2 separate regions of the Homo sapiens genome follow, and region 1 is linked to region 2. The links come from fine-mapping of genetic effects on gene expression. A gene starts in region 2. The other region holds a variant in brackets. All regions are shown on one strand. Distances are from middle to middle. Region 1 overlaps CARINH (colitis associated IRF1 antisense regulator of intestinal homeostasis). Region 2 holds the start of CARINH (colitis associated IRF1 antisense regulator of intestinal homeostasis).

Region 1 (8,336 bases), 50 kb before region 2:
TACTCGGGAGGCTGAGGCAGGAGAATTACTTGAACCCAGGAGGCAGAGGTTGCGATGAGCCGAGATCACGCCATTGCACTCCAGCCTGGGCAACAAGAGTGAAACTCCATCTCAAAAAACAAACAAACAAACAAAAACACTGTCATGCCCCCACCGCCAGCTTGTCTCCCTTTCTTTTTAGGTGTGGCCCACAGAGCTCAGTGCCCTGCCTATCTGGAAGAGGCTGTGAAGCCCATCTATGTAGGTAACGGAGGCAAAGCAAGGGCTAGGGAGAGTGTGCCATGTGGGACACCTCCCCCTATCACCTCCCCACTGCCTGCACACACTGGGGACAGTCAAAGCATTCCTCAGGCTGGGGGTAGGAGCTGTGGGCGGAAGAGCTGGGGCATCTGTTCACAGAATCCTCCCCTGAAGTTGCTCGGAGGGGCTGGGATGCAGTCCAGACACTGGGGAGCCTGATGCAGACGCCTCCCTGGAGCACTGTCCTTCTCTTGGGCTCTTCAAGCCTGCCCTCACTCATGAACACATATTTTTTGTGTGTACTTCCTGCATGCCAGGCACTACCCAGGCACTGTGGATGCACAGTGAACAACACAGACCAGGTCCACGCGTCACAGACTTTACTTCCCTGAGGGAGGCAGACATTAGGCAAATAATCACATGGATCTCTGAAAAACATAGCTCCTACGAGAGGGTGCAACTTCAGGGGTCTTAACCTACAAAGGAGTGTGTGGGATTAGGGGGTTAGGGCAGCTGTTCTAAGGATGAGACATTTCAGGTGAGGAGAGGAATGGGGTGGAGTTGGCAGGGGGGCTGGTTCTCGGCTCTCCCCGACTGCCCTCCTTCCCCGCATTCCAGTCGCTTCAGGAAATCTGCCGCTTCCATGAGAGCTTCTTTGGTGGTGTCTTCCAAGCTGCTACCAAGCGATGGCTTTGCCAGCTGTTGCTTTCAGTGTTTGTGCCTGGGTGAGCACAGCCGGTATGAAATGGCCCAGATTAATCGAGAGCCAGGCCCCTCCTAAAGTACCTCTGAAAAGAGTTTTTCAGCATAAGCATGACATTAGCTTTTCCTAGAGAGGAAACCACCCCCGGGGCTGACAGCAAGCAGGCCAGGCTTAAAGGAAGCAAGTGCAGCGCTGGGGCCCCTCCATGCCCTGCTGCAGACAGGACACCCTCACTGCCTTCCCCCAACATGCTCCCCCACTCCCACTCCTGCTTCTTTCTCCCTGGGGGACTCTCCTTGTGGAAAAGAAACCCCAACAGTAGGGGGAGCGAGTGAAACTGGAAAATGAAACTGTGATTTCCAGTTTCATTTTCCAGTTTCAATTTAGAAGCAGCTCTGCCAGCTTTCCAGTGCCCGTGCCTCAGGGCATCACAGAGGAGCTGAGGGGCAGGAAAAAGTGTTCCAGCCAGCAAGCACCCTGCTCCCTGGGCACCCTCAGAGGGCAGGTACTGGACTGGTAGAACCCACTGAGCAGGGAGTTGTTGCAATGCCGATTCCTGGCTCTCCAGGCTCTGAGGCCGTACGTTTGGGCCCTTTGGTGATTCTGATGCAGGCTGTGGACCTCACCATGGCAGTCGTGGCCTCAGAGACCATCAGAACAGCTAGAGCACACCTGAGGCACGGCCTCATCCTCTCCAAGTCACTTCCTGCCACAGATGCTCGGGAAGTGCTGCTTCTCTGTGCAGCATCTCCTGCCCTCCTCCATCTGGTGTTGGAGGCATCTTAGATGTTCTCTGGGACCTGAGGTCTGTAGGAAACCCCGGCTGTGGACTTCACACAAGGGTCGCTCTTTCCCACACTCCAGGTTTCCCTTTAAGCTGCTAATTTGTAACAGGCATTCATAGAAACAGAATAAGATAGAGAAATTCTATTAAAGGACCTTATGTGCTTTTGCTCTGTCTGTTGCTCCATTTATTTGCAATTTATAGCCTAATCCAAGAGGATTTAAGGACAATTAAATATTTCTTTCCCCTCAGTGTGTGTGTGCGAGTGCACGTGTAAGAGTGTGTAGGGGTTGGGTCTTCCAATGTACCTTTGCCCTGGTTTGACCGTGGGGGGAGAGGGTGGGCAGGTCTCCAGGCCTGCCAGATGTAGACCTTTCCTAATGTCTACAGCAAATTTGTTCTTCAGTGTTTCTAGTATCAGTTTTTGATCAATCATTAATCAAAGTTGCAATAAAAAGATAATCTTCTCAGGACTAGGCTATAAAGGTCCTGGCTGCAACCTTAAAAAACCCTTCTGTGGAGGCCTCAGAGCCAAGAGAAAAGGGCGATGTGTCTGTGGCTGGATTTGGAGGTAAATGAACGTGCTGTCCCTCTCTAATTGGTGTGCACGAACATGAACTTCAGTCACTTGCGTGGCTATGGCCTCTTTCTTCATCTCTCCCTGCCAGTGAAGCTGGTGGTGCCCTGGCTCCCAAGCCAGGTGGCAAAGCTGGGGAAGGAGGCTGTAGTTGGGCCCAAATATGGGGGTCTGGGGGCACCTCCACAGGTTGTGACCACTGCAGCATGCTCTGGGGCCAGGCCTATGGCAGTGGAGGCAGGACAGCCCCCAGGACCACAGAGCCCCCATAGTGGAGGGAGCCACTACTTGGGCGGCTCAGCTCATTCCTGCTGACTTGCTGCTGTACAGGGCAGAGGGGTGCCTGAGACAAAGAGGAGACACACTTCTCCCACGAGAAATAAAGCAAGCAGCTGTTCCTCTCTTGGGCCCAGCAGGGGTCAGAGGCTGTGGGACCTTCACTCCTTCCCTCTCAGTGGAGAGGGCAGATCTGCTCTTTGGGGTGTGAGGGCACAGCCTCCTGACAAGCTGGAGAAGCAGGATTTAAGAGCTAGAATCAACGGAGAATGTGAGGCCCAGCATCAGGTTCAAGAAGCAAGGGGATCAAGGTTGGGGGGGAGGCAGGGAGCCTGAGCCTGGCGCAGCCCAGACCAACAGACTGAGGAGTCCAGAGAGCCAACATGCTCACTCGGCCATCGCTAAGATGTGTAGTGTGTGAGAAGGTGTGAGAGGTACTCGCGTTTCTCTCTCCAACCCCTTCCAACATATTATTGGGTCGTGGGTGCCATGTTTTTAGTAGACACATAAAATAAATGAGTATTTTCAGAGAAGTGCAACCCTGGAGGTGCAGGGGAGTGAACTCAGCCATGAGAAATCATTCAAAGGATTGACCTATGGAACAGGGATAGACTTGCTCTCCATGGCTCCAGCAGGGAAGCAGCAGAGAGGGGAACCTTTCCTGAAAGTCCAGTGTGACATCTGAAGACACACACACACACACACACACACTTTTTTGAGAGAGAGAACGAGAATGAAAAGATACACACTGATCTTTCAACAGTCGTTGTCTCTACCTGGTGATTGCGAATGATTTTAATTTTTTTCCTCTTGTGCTTACAGTATTTTCTAAAATCTCTAAAATACACCCAAATTACTTTCTTGTTATGGCAAAATAGACATAAAATGTCTACATCCATTTTAACCATTTTTAAGTGCAGAGTTCCATAGTATGAAGTACATTCTCACTGTTGTGCAGCCATCACCACCATCCATCTCCAGAACTTTTTCATCACCCTCAACATAAACTCTGCATCCACTAAGCAGTATCTCCCTGTTCTTCCTCCTTCCAGCCCCTGGCAACCATCCTTCTACTTTCTGTCTCTATGAATTTCACTATTCTAGGTACCTCATATAAGTGGGATCATCTGGTATTTTTCCTTCTGTGTCTGGCTTATTTCACTTAGCATAATGTTTTTAAGGTTCATCTATGTTATAACATGTACCAGAATTTCATTCCTTTTTAAAGCTGAATTATGTTCCATTGTAC[A/G]TATTCACCATATTTTGTTTATCCACTCCTCTTGTCATGGACATCTGGGTTGTTTCCACCTTTTGGCTATTGTGAATAATACTGCTACAAACACTGGTGTACAAATATCACTTTGAGTCCCTGCTTTCAATTCTTTTGGGTATATTCCTAGAAGTGGAACTGCGGGATCATATGATAACTAAGTTTTTGAGGAACCACCACATTGTTTTCAACAAAGGCTGCATGATTTTACGTTCCCAATAGCAATGCACAAGGGTATCTATTTCTTCACATCCTTGCCAACACTTATTTTCAGGTTGTTTTTGTTGTTTTAAAATAGCCATCCTAACAGATGTGAAGTGGTATCTTACTTATTATGGTTTTCATTTGCATTTCCCTAATCTAAATTACGTTTTAAAATCCAATCCTCTCTGAATTGAACCCTTTGTTCTTTATTTCTCAATAAAATGGACCTTGCCCCCTTTTTTTCCTTCTTTGTACCTATGCTCTGCATTTTAAAAAATTGTGGCAAAATACATATAACTTAAAACTTTACCATCTTAACCATTTTCAAGTGTAGAGTTCAGTATTAAGTATATTCACATTGTTGTGCCCTAACCCAAATATAGTATATAATGGCAAAAAGAAACAAAAGGCTCTCTAAAGAAAAAGAAAGCCGTGAATTCTTGGACCCCAGAGATGTTCACAAACAGATTGGATCAATCTCAGCAGGGACTTTCATTCATCTTCTGAGCATCTCTGCTGGGCTGGGCTCTGTGCCAGGCAGGGGTCTCCGTGGTGAGTGTGGCCTGGACTCTGCCCTTGGGGTTCAGCCTCTGTGGGGAACAGTTATACCCAAGGGCTGCTGTGGGCACAGAGGGACACCCTGTTGTGTGGGTGCGGCATTGGGAAGGGGCATAAGTGAGGTGGCACATGAGTTCAGGTGGGAAGGATGAGCAGACATGTACATGTGCAGAGAAGGGAACTGGCGTGTGTGGCTGGGCTGTGGCAGCACACCTCACAACCACCATTACAGGAGCATCTATTAATCATTTATGTCTGTCTCTCTACTTGATTATAAGCTGCATGAGAGCAGGGCTGATGGTTTTGTTCACTGCTGCATTGCTGCCATGCCCAGCACAGGCAAGTGTAAAAGAAACACTTGCTGAATAAATGAGTGGTTGATGACGAGGAAAAAGGAGACATTTCTTTCCAGAATCTTGGCTGTAAGCAGCAGACAGCATGGCTGTACTCCACGGGGAAGGCAGGATGGCAGGAAGCATTATACAGGTGATGGAGACAGGAGCACAGCAGGAGCCAGTGGAGAAGAAGAGTTTGAAGATTCCCTGGTTGAGAGAATGGAAGGGCGTAATTGCTGGGGAGAGGTCCCTGAAGAAAGGGGAGAGGCTGGGATGCAGGCTCAGTGGAAGGAGAGGAGTCTCCTTATGAGACTCAGATGGCCAGTGTGAAAAAGACAGAAGATACCAACTGCTGGTAAGAATGGGAAGCACACTGCATGGGGAACTCTCCTACACTGCTGGAGGCGTGTTCTTCCTGTTATTCTAGATTCAGACAGCACTCTGGTCGCTGGTTGGTGCAGGCCACCATTTGGGCCAATTAGAGGAACCCCAATATCTGCACTTGGACTATCAGAAATGAGAGCTCTACGCCCAGAGCAATTTCCAAGATGGGCCTGAATCCATGAGTCATGGCACTACATGGAGCCCAGGGTTGGCTCTGAGCCTAACAGCCTCCAAAATGTCAACTTTGTTCACGTGCCACTTTGTCCCTCATCTCATGCCATGCAGCTGGCAGGACTTCAGTTGACAGAAGGTAGACCCTGCTCTTTTCAAAAAGCACACAGGACAGGTGCTGATAGGCCAGCCCCTCCCACTGAGCTCTAGTTACTGCGGTGAACTTCACCAGGAGGTTCAGCGCCCACTGTGGCTCTGCCTGAGGGGCCTCTGTGCACACTCAGTCCAGGCACTAGCATCCCAGCGCCTGGCCAGTGGTCCAACTCCAGACTCACTACACAGAGCCCCTTGCAACCGATGTGTGCCAACATGGAGCCCACACAGGGCAGCTCAGCGTGACACCTGCACAGCTCAAGACTGAGGGAAGGAAATGCATCTTCTTTCTCAAGTTGGAAGAGGCTGTACTGAATTACCAAATGGCATTATACTCTCTGTGGGGGAGCACAGATGAGTGTCCGGCAGTCCCTGGGATGATGTTACAGTCCAGAGGTGGGGATGAGATGAGCCCAGATGATGCAATGGGGATGCAATCAAGACACGATGTCATTAGAAGCCACAGTGTGTTCTCTCATGCCACGTGTTTCCCAGCTTAGAGGAGTAAGGGGTCGGGGGGGGGAGTGGCCCCCTGGGACCCTGCTCTAGGACGCATGCATAAGGACCCACATGCAAACGCACAGAATTCAAGAGCTAGCCAGGCCTGGACCCATGTAGGAGAGCCCCACTGGCTGATTTCCAATCTGGGACAAAGGCCACAGACAGGAGGCCTCCCTTGGCCACACCCAGGTCCCCAGAACATATGCTCCACTGTCCCCAGTCTAACCACAACCCCATATGAGCTGTGTCCCATTCATGTTGGCCTAGAAACTGGGAAGTACCTGGCATGGGGCCCTCCGCTTCCTCCCCATGACTGCCTGGAGCTCTGGGGAGACCACCAAGGGGCCATTTTTGTGGTTAGGAAATGTCTGTGGCAGCTGTGGACACCACAGGCCCTCCCTGGACCCTTCTGAAGTAGAGGTCACATTCCTAAAGATTCTTAACTGCCAGCTCCAATTGCTTCTTCCTGACAGGCTCATCTTAGTAGGGAGTGAATATAATCTTTTCCCAGTTCCACGAGGTCCTCTCAGATCCAAAATGCTCTAAGTTCAAAGGCAAATCATGAAGAAAGGGAGACGCAGATACTAATTTGTGGTTTTAGTTCAGTGGTTTTCCACCTTGGCTACACAGTAGAGTTACCTAAGGAGCTTTTTAAAAATACTCATGTCCAAATATTCCAACAGGCACTTTGCAAAGAGAAGATCTAAATGGCTAACAAACATATGAAAGGTTGCTCAGCTGTATTAGTCATCAGGGAAATGCAAATTCAAACCACACTGTGATACCACTACATACCTGCCAGAATGGCTAACATGAAAAAGATAGAAAATATCTATGGTTGGCAAAAATGTGAAGCAACCAGAACTCTCATACATTGCTGGAGGGAGTGTAAATGGGTACAGCCACCTGGGAACATTATTTGGCATAAGGTACTAAAGCTGAACATACTCATACCCATGCTTCCCCAGCAATGGATATACATGTACTCCAAAAATACACACTAGCATGTCATTGCAATAGTCAGAATAGTTCCGAATTATAAATAACAACTCGAATATCCAAAAATGCATCACAGTAGAATGGATAAATCGAGGAATATCCATAGAGTGGAATACTCTATAGCAAGAAGAGTGAATAAACTGCAGCTCTAAGTAACAACTTGGATGAATCATCTCACAAACACAACAAGAGGATATATACTGCCTGATTCCATTTACATCATATAAAGTTTGAAAACAGGAGAAATGACTGTACACCATTAGAAGCCAGAATGGACATTAGCCTTTGGAGCCAGGTAGTAAGTGGAAGGGGTACCAGGGGTTGCTGGTGATGTTCTGTTTCATGATTTGGATGCTGGTTACTCGGGGTAAATTCATTTTGTGAAAATTCACTGAGCTTTACACTTATGGTTTGTGCTTTTTTTTTTTTTTTTGCATGTATGTCATCCTTCAACAAACACTTAAAAAATGTTTGAAAACCCCATCAATTCAGTCAGACTCTTTGGGTGGGAGCAAGATCCAGGCATCAGTATTTTTTAATATCCCAGATGATGGTAATATGCAGCCAGGATTTAAAGTCACTGGTTTAATATCTTGGGAAAAGCAGATCCACTCAAGACCTCACAGGGTCCTGACAAAGGCCACTTCCAGCTCAGTGGAGTGAGACACTGGGGTGGGAAGATGTCCATTTTTTGGATGTGGGTCAGTCTCTTGCACAGGCAGAGGTATTGCAGCATGCTGTTGTAATGTGTATCTTCCTTGGCAGTGTCTGTTGAAAGCTGGTTGCATCAGTTTGTAATGGGGTGTAATGGCAACAAGGTGGGCCCAGCCCCCCCCAGGAAGTGGATCACTGAGCACAGCTTCTACAGGGCCATTTGTAGAGAGGTGGCAGCTGGGCTTCCCAGGGGCTGCCACCCAGGGCAGAGCCAGTGCTGAGGCTCTGACAACCTCGGCAGGGTGGGGAGAAGGCCAGACTCAGGGTGTTTATGTTTGTGGGTAATGACAGTCAGCTCTGGGCTCCAGATGATGCTTACTCCCTGGCCTCTGTGTTCAGATTAGGAACTTGCAACATCTTGCTGAGGACCATGTCAGGCTCAGCTCTAAGTGCTGTGGCTGAGAATTTTCCTTCCTCTCTGTGTGGTTAGTGGCAGCCTCCCTAGCAATGGCTGACCTCTAGCATAC
Region 2 (8,336 bases):
GATTATTTCCTTAGGGTCCTATTTCCTACATCCATGCATTGCCATTACTATTTTGCTATAATTAATTACCATCTGTAATGTACTTAACATTTCTCTTTACATCAACTCATTTCTGTCCTTAAACAAATGTATTTTAAAAGCAAACCTGACTCGGTGTAGTGGCTCACACCTGTAATCCTAGCACTTTGGGAAAACAAGGCAGGCGGATTGCCTGAGCTCAAGAGTTCAAGACCAGCCTGGGCAACATGGCGAAACCCCGTCTGTACTAAAAATACAAAAAATCAGCCGGGTGTGGTGGTGCGTGCCTGTAGTCCCAGCTACTCAAGAGGCTGAGGCACAAGAATCGCTTGAACCTATGAAGCAGAAGTTGCAGTGAGCCAAGATCATGCCACTGCACTCTAGCCTGGACAACAGGACAAGACTCTGTCTCAAAAAACAAACAAACAAACAAACAAACCTTATTTAAGTGGAAAACCAACATCATATGCCATAAATGAAGGCAATCATAATAGGTTTTATTGGAATAAAAAAACACTGTGGTTAAAATATAGTCAAAATACTGCTACCCCTTTGCCCATTCTTTTATATAAAATGGGAGATTAGAGAGGCTTAGAGAGGTGTTAAAGGTATGCTAGCACCAAGCTAAAGTTTTTCACCTTCCGTTGATCAGAAGACTGAAAAGGAATTGAGCATGGGAATAACTTTCTCACTGTGAGTCAGTGTTAGACAATGTGGCAAATGTGTCCCAACTAGAATTACCCTGCGCCACCTGAAATAACCTCATATGAAAACATGCCTTAGGACATATTCCTGGAAGTAGAACTGGGATAAAAGGCATGGACACTTTAAGCAGCTTCTGATAACCACAGCCCAAACACCATCCAAGTTAGTTTTACCACAGTTTTACTATGACTGTGTCCATTTTACTTCACGTTCACAAATATTAAGTACTATAAACAAAATATTAAAATAGTTAAAACGTTTCAGCTTTTTGATGTAAAATATCCAGCAGCTGAATCTTCAAAGGCTATTTTCATGCTCTTCTAGCTAGTCCCTGACCCTAGGGCAGGGCTATTTTATGAACCTTTAATTAGTGGTAAGCTTACAACAAACTGATACTGCACTTGGTTTCACCAAGCTGAAGTAAACTCTGTAAAAGATGAGGAAGTGACTTTAGCATTTGCAAATATTTCAGAATGCCTTTGTGCCAGCAAAGGTCAAACAACGATCAGAATTGCATGGATTCCAAAGTATACTTTTGGGAAATAAGAGACTCAGAGAAGCATTACTCAAGATACAATTCACTATGAATTTTCAGCAATTCAATGAAAAGTCTAAAAGAAATACATGTTTAAACTTTCCTATCCTGGTATAATATGCAATTGCACAAATAGGTTAGATTGTAGATTAATGCAATTGTTAATATTTCTAACATAGAAAAAGGAAATTGTATTTTGAAGCAAGAAGAATTAATAACAATTGGAATTGTTCAGGTTATTTTAATAATTCCCAGGCAGATACCTATGTGTATATGTGCCTGTGGGGAAAAGGTAAGGAAAAAGAGACGTGAGAAAACATACTTATGTAATTCCAGCACTTTGGGAGGCTGAGGCGGGTGGATCACTAGGTCAAGAGATTGAGACCATCCTGGCCAACATGGTGAAACCCCGTCTCTGCTAAAAATACAAAAATTAGCTGGGCATGGTGGGACCTGTAGTCCCAGCTACTCGGGAGGCTGAGACAGGTGAAGTGCTTGAGCCCGGGAGGTGGAGGTTGCAGAGAGCTGAGATTGTACCACTGCACTCCAGCCTGGGTGACAGAGCGAGACTCCATCTCAAAAACAAAAACAAAAACAAAAAATAAAAAAAAAGATTTATTATGTTTGGAAGGAGGTTATAGGTTCTGATTAATTTTTGCCAGAGACAAAAATACAAGTTTATCTAAGCTTAAGAACTAAATGATGGCCTATTGTAAGATATAGAACTTCCAACTCACTGAATAAAAAGAAGGAAAGAAGAAACAGGGGACAAATACACTTTGATGAATCCATAGAGTCACAAGGAAAAAAAAAACACACATGATAAATACATGGCAAAACAAGATGGCAAAAATAAGACCACATTTATCAGTGATCAAAATAAATATGAATGAATTAAATTCCATTGTTAAAAGACCAAGACTTTCACCCTAAATGCCCATAAATGGAAAATGGATAAATTATGGTATGTATTCCATTTTAATGGATGTGTATGTGTGTGTATGTATGTGTATGTGTGTGTATACACCACAGAAAGAGGCCCATGAGTTTCAGTTTAGAAAGATGTAGAAATATATTTGTATAAGCATAGGAAAGGGTCCAGAAAAACACACCAATATGATATCTGTGGTTGCCTATAAAGAGCAGTTTACCTATGAGTTTCAGTTTAGAAAGTTGTAGAAAAATATTTGTATAAGCATAGGAAAGGGTCCAGAAAAACACACCAATATGATATCTGTGGTTGCCTATGGAGGCTGAAGTGGACTTTCCTGTCTCACTTTACAAATGTCTATACTGTTTGAATTTATTACAAAAGCATATGACTAAAGAAACATGAAAAAATGGAATAATAAACATAAGGGCAGAATCAGCAAAATAGAGGACATAGAGGACCAAAAAAAAGGTGGTTAACAAAACTTGAAGTATTTATTTGAAAGTAGACAAACCTCTAGTGAGACTGATCAAGAATAACTGACAGAAGATTTTTTAAAAATGAGATTACAGAAAAAGGAAGAAATGACAAATAAAACAGACATTTTAAAACTTATAAAGGAATAATATAAACACATGATAATACATTTGAAAATACAGATGAAATGAATAATTTCTAGACAATAAAAATTGCCAAATTTGGCACAAAAATGTGAATAACCACTTAAGAGACTCAAATAATTTTGAAACCTCTTCCCCATAGAGTTTCAGACCCAGAAGATTTTACAAGTGCCTCCTACTAACTTCCAAGGAGCAGAAAATCTCTATCTTAATGGAGTTGCTTTAGAAAATAGAAAAAAAGAGAAAACATTGCCCAATTTGTTACTTGATTTTGAAATGTTAAATATGGACTGTACAAATAAAGAAAAATACAGGATAGTTTCACTTATAAACATAGATGTTAAACTCCTAAATAAAATATTATCTAATCAAATACGAAAGTGTATTACAAATACATCATGATAAAGTAATTCACCACATTAGTCGATTGTGGAAGAGGTTACTAGTGCTCACCAGTCTCTCGTTCTTTTCCTCCTGGGAACACCACCAGGCTACATTTCCCAGCCACCTTACAATTAGGTGAGACCCATGAGACTAGTCCATGCCAATGGAATGTGAATGGAAGTGCATCTAATTTTCTGGCTCATGAAAACAGCAGCATTTTCTCTATTTTCTTTTTTTCTTTCTTTGTTTTTTTTAGACGGAGTTTAGCTCTTGTTGCCGAGGCTGGAGTGCAGTGGCGCGATCTTGGCTCACTGCAACCTCCGCCTCCCGGGTTCAAGCAATTCTCCTACCTCAGCCTCCCAAGTAGCTGGGATTACAGGCATGTGCCACAATGCCTGGCTAATTTTGTATTTTTAGTAGAGACGGGGTTTCTCCATGTTTGTCAGGCTGGTCTCAAACTCCCGACCTCAGGTAATCAGCCCGCCTCGGCCTCCTGAAGTGCTGGGATTACAGGCGTGAGCCACCGTGCCCGGCAAGAGCAGCATTTTCTAAAAGCAATCAGTACTCAACACCATCCTGCTGAGGTAGGGCAGCGGCGGACTCCATGTTTTGAAACTTAGGAACTTAGACCATCTTTTGTCAAATTCAGATGGTTTTCTCAAAGTAAAGATCATTCAAGTTTTGTTTCAGTAATGGGCCGTATGATCAGATCTGTGTGATTAGGCTGAATTCATTATTATTGAGACAAAAATTGAGTTAAAGGGGATTCTTGGTATTGGCCTGCAAAACCTGTCATAACTTAAATGTAAAGTTTCTGATGATTTAGTCACTTTACTCTCAGCTCTTAGCTCTTTCACTCACCTGTCCTTGTTCTACACAACCTGCCTGATGGGTAACTTGAATACATATTTTCTCTCTTCAGGGGATGGGAACGCCCTAAGGGCAGGGGCTGTTTCCACAGCCCTGGGGTGGAACCCCCTTCCTGCATACCAAGAATGAGTTGGCTATACTTGACGAAGGGCAAAGACAAGGTGGCACGCATCTTTCATGCTTCTGCTGGCAGATGCAGTGGACTGGAAATTTCCTGGTCTGGGAAGGACTCGGTCTGTGAGTGCACCTATCCCTGACATCTATGCTAGCCCCGGGATGGGGGCCCCAGCAGAGTAAGGCCCTGACTTCACATGGACAGGGCCAGGGCAAGGGGGCCACATCCTGGCCTAGTTGCTCTCCATGCCCGTGATCAAGGGAGATGAGCTGCCAGCTTGCTCGGTCAAGGAACACTTGGAAGGCACTCCAAGTGCCCCCAGGTGCACCAGATCTAGGAAACTTAAGCAAACTACATGAGGTATGGGGTGGGGCCCAGTGGGAAAAATGAGTCTGACAGGTCAGAGGGAGTAGATTATGAGCTCAGGTTAGGCATTCTGTTCAGCATTTTACGTACACCCTCCCACTTTTGATTTTTACCAACACCCAGGGAGGTCGGTGCTCTACAAAAGGGAAAGGCGTGCTCAGGTGGCCCGACTTGCCACGGTTCCAGCTCGACCCCGGGCTGCTAGCCCCTTGGCACGCTTGTCTGAGGCCTCCCAGGTCTTCCAGCCTGGCCTGGAGGCTCAAAGCCACGAAACCCAAGGGTGCCGCTTCTCAGGCCCTCCCCGCCCCCACGGCAGAACCCCTGACCCTGCCCGGGTCAAACGCCTGGCGTCGGGCCCGCCGGGTCCGCAAGGAGGAGCCCGCGAGGCGGCCGCGAAGGGGCTGTGCTTACCTCGCCCGGCGCGGGTTGCGGCCCCAGGGCCCGCGCTCCAGGCTGGCGGCCGCTGCATTCTGCGCCCCTCGCCTGAAACGGCAGCTGCGCCAGTCCTGGCCACGACCGCTTTCATTTTCCTCAACGACATCGGCAGGAAAGCGAAAGCGAAACCCTCCGGGAGGCGGGACCGGGGCCGAGCGCGCAGTGAACGCGGGGCGCGCGGCGGGCGCGGGCCGGCAGCCAGAGGCGGGGGCCCCGGGCTCGGGTCTGCGCGTGGCCTGGCCCGGTGGCGTTCGGGGTGGAGCTGGGCCAGCCGAGTGCCCGAGAGCTAGTCCGCCACGCACACCTGCCTCGGCGGGACCCGGGCCCGGGCTGGGCGGGAGGCTGGGCAGGCCCGCCGTAAGTGGAAAGGCGCCCGCGGCGCTTCGGCCGACCGGGACAGGTTCCTCCATCTGCCCTTCATTCAGCGTTTACTTGGGCCTGTGGCTGGCAGCCGGCCCGGGACCTGACCGCTGGCGGCGCCTCGGGCTCTGGCCTGAGGAGGCAGATGGCAGCCTGAGCAACTGGGACCAAGCCTCTGAGGAGTCCCCGTTGGAGGGGACTTGACCATGAGGTACCAGGCATCTCATCTGGGGTCAGCGGAGAACCCAAAAGTCAATGACGTCGGTGAAATGGGGGTCCCTTCATCCGATAAGAGAAACTGGAACAGCAAGCCTATGGTTTGGACTCCCTGGTCTAAGCGGTGCCCATCAATATCTAAACATTTAGAGATTCCAGGTTTCAGTGTCTGGCCGTCTCTTACTGTCAGTGATTTGGGGCAAAATATTCAAGTAGTTAGACTTAATTACTTCCCCTGTGGGATGGGAATAATAATAATCATACCTACTGCCAGAATTTTAGGAATGAACAATAGAAGGAAGAAAATACTTAAAATTTTCTGACAGCCTCTAAGTGGGTTCCTTGAGGGCAGCAACCAAGTCATTTACCTGGATGCTTGATAGACATTCTCTAATGGCCAGTCCATCAACTTGGAGCTATCTCCATGATAACAGGTTAGTTGTCAAAGTTTGGACAATATTATCTGGAGTTTAAAGACTGAGGAAGCCCTGCAATTTTTTTTGGAAGGTGTCTGAAACTTAGCCTGACAATTAGCCCCCACAATTATGCCACGGAACCAGGTTTTTGTTAGAGTGGAGCATGGCCACAACGTTTGATGGACATTCCTACAGCGGTGTTCAGCGCTGGCCACTGAGGTCTGAAAATACTTTTGCAAGCATTTCTATTCACTTGCTTTTAGAAAACATTGGTAAGACACCATACTCCAAACACAGTTTGCCCTGTCTGTACGTTTGTTGCAAAGCAAACATAAAAGTTTTTGCCATAGAGCAAACACAGAGCAGTCTGTTATAACTGGAACAAGAAACCAAAATGAGCTATTAAATCTGCCCAGAGTCACTTTGGTTTACCTGTTTGTAATTTGGGCACATTCCCTGCAAGATGGAGGCCCTGGTCTGTGACTGATGTAGGGGCTTGTATGTGTCCTTGCAATAGTTCCCTCAAGAGCAGGTGGGAAAGTGGGGCAGGCCAAATGATGACCTTAGAAAAACAACAGCCTGTTTCTCTGTCCAGAAGATGCTACTTTTAGTCTGTAGTATGAAGGAAAAAGAAAAAACAAAAAAGGCAAGCCTTGGAGCCTCTTCCTCCTTATAGGACAATTCTTGACTCCAAGATAGCAAAGTAGAGTTAAATCTGCTTCTGCATAAAAACTATGTTTGGGAAGATGAAGATCAGGAAAAGACAGGAAGAGATGTAAGCAGATAAGCCAAATCCTGGTTACCTTTTATAGACATCACACATGTGAACAGAGAGCATCAGGAGGTCAAGGCCGGCCTGATGTTTTTCATCTTGGCAACTTCCCAAGGTCCAGGTTTGGTCCTTGACTTTGTGGGGCCAAAAATCTCATCTGACTTCCAGTGTACCAGAGTCGATTAGCACTGTTGCATAAAGTCAGAATGACAACTGACTGATTTCATTCACTATTTGCTAGAGAAGTGCTATGCTAAATGCATTACATGCATTATTACCTCATTATTTCTCCCTACTATCATGTGGTATATTATAATCTATTTATTTTTCATTTGGGAGAAAAAAAGATGAAGGAAATCCCAAGGTCACATAGTTACTATGTATGTTAGTGGCAGGGTTTGAATCAAGGCCATCTGACCCCAAAACCTGAAGCTTATCCATTCCTGTTAGAAGCAAGACTGTCGGGAACACTGGACTCGAGGCCACCTGATGAACACATTCTCTTCTTGTAGCCATGCAGTTTGGAGCCCCATAGTCAGAAGGTGGCTTAGTGAGCCTAAAATCAGAATCGGAAGAGTGAATTGTCTGACTTAAATGTTTGATGATATCAGGCTCGGGCAATGTGGGATGTCTCTTTCCACAACACAGGTCAAAACCTATAGGAAGTACTGTTCACTCATCCCTGCTGGCCTGGCCAGCCCTTCTCCCTAGATGGGGCCTGGTGGACACCATCTGTTTGTGTCGATGAGGCTCTCTGTATTATGGTACCCAGGCCGCCTCTCCTCAGATGGACATTTTTAGATAGAGCAAGGCGTTACTGAGTAACATTACTCAGTAAGGTCTCTCAGCCCTTATTTTTCTTTATGGAGACATTTTGTATCTTTGCTCTGATTGGCTTGATTTATAATTTAACTTCTAAAGGACAGCTTTCTATCCCACCTTTTGGAGACAGCTCTGTTTTCCTTACTATCCTTCCTGATCTAACCCTGGAACAAAAGTTTGTGCAGTAGCAAGTTCTGCAACAAGAACTTTATCCAGGCCTGCACTGATAGTCAGTAAAGACACAAAAGAAGCAAAAGTCCAAGTCCAAGGCCAGTCCCAAAAGACTTTACTACAGAATCGGGCAATGGAGGGTTGGGGGGCGGGGCACAGCTGATGATCACGCAACCCAGCTGAAGAATGATATAAATGGAATGAAAGCATGGTGCAAGCAGCATCTAACTTAGGAGTCACTGGTTAGGAAAAAAAAATACCTGATGTGTGATTCAGATAAAAATGAAAAAAATAACCCTTTTAGATATTTCATTCAACAAATATTCTGTGGCAACTACAAAATGCAGCCACCCTGCTAATGCTGGGGATTCAGTGATGAGCAAAAATAAATGTGGTCTCTGCCCTCGGGAAACACACTTGAGTGAGGTAATAAAGCAATCAAATAATTGGTCAAATATAGAATGCCATCCTAAATACTACAAGATGCATTTGACGCTATAAGAGGGAATGCCAGAGGCAAAACTCCTCTAATGGGCCACCTGTACTCTGGGGCTTCCTGTCAGTCTGGCCAGCACTTTCTCAGAATGGCTCTGCAGTCTG

What was found. PIP is the estimated chance that this variant, and not a neighbour inherited with it, causes the effect.
Region 1: its variant is fine-mapped to the expression of CARINH in blood mononuclear cells (TOPMed, PIP above 0.99).

Annotation. Positions count from the first base shown.
Region 1 is chr5:132,457,380-132,465,715 of GRCh38, reverse strand. All of the region lies in intron 3 of CARINH (colitis associated IRF1 antisense regulator of intestinal homeostasis), which reads right to left. Among named protein-coding and RNA genes, the nearest start is that of IRF1, 29 kb to the left of the region's middle. RefSeq lists enhancers at 1-775, 817-886, 776-1,740, 7,806-8,035, 7,963-8,336. The variant A/G (reference allele first, on the strand shown) is at 3,830.
Region 2 is chr5:132,407,661-132,415,996 of GRCh38, reverse strand. CARINH (colitis associated IRF1 antisense regulator of intestinal homeostasis) reads right to left here and starts at 5,068. Exons shown (of 4, transcript NR_161242.1): 1 at 4,956-5,068. RefSeq lists silencers at 179-367, 4,770-5,059, 5,130-5,429 and an enhancer at 5,670-5,719.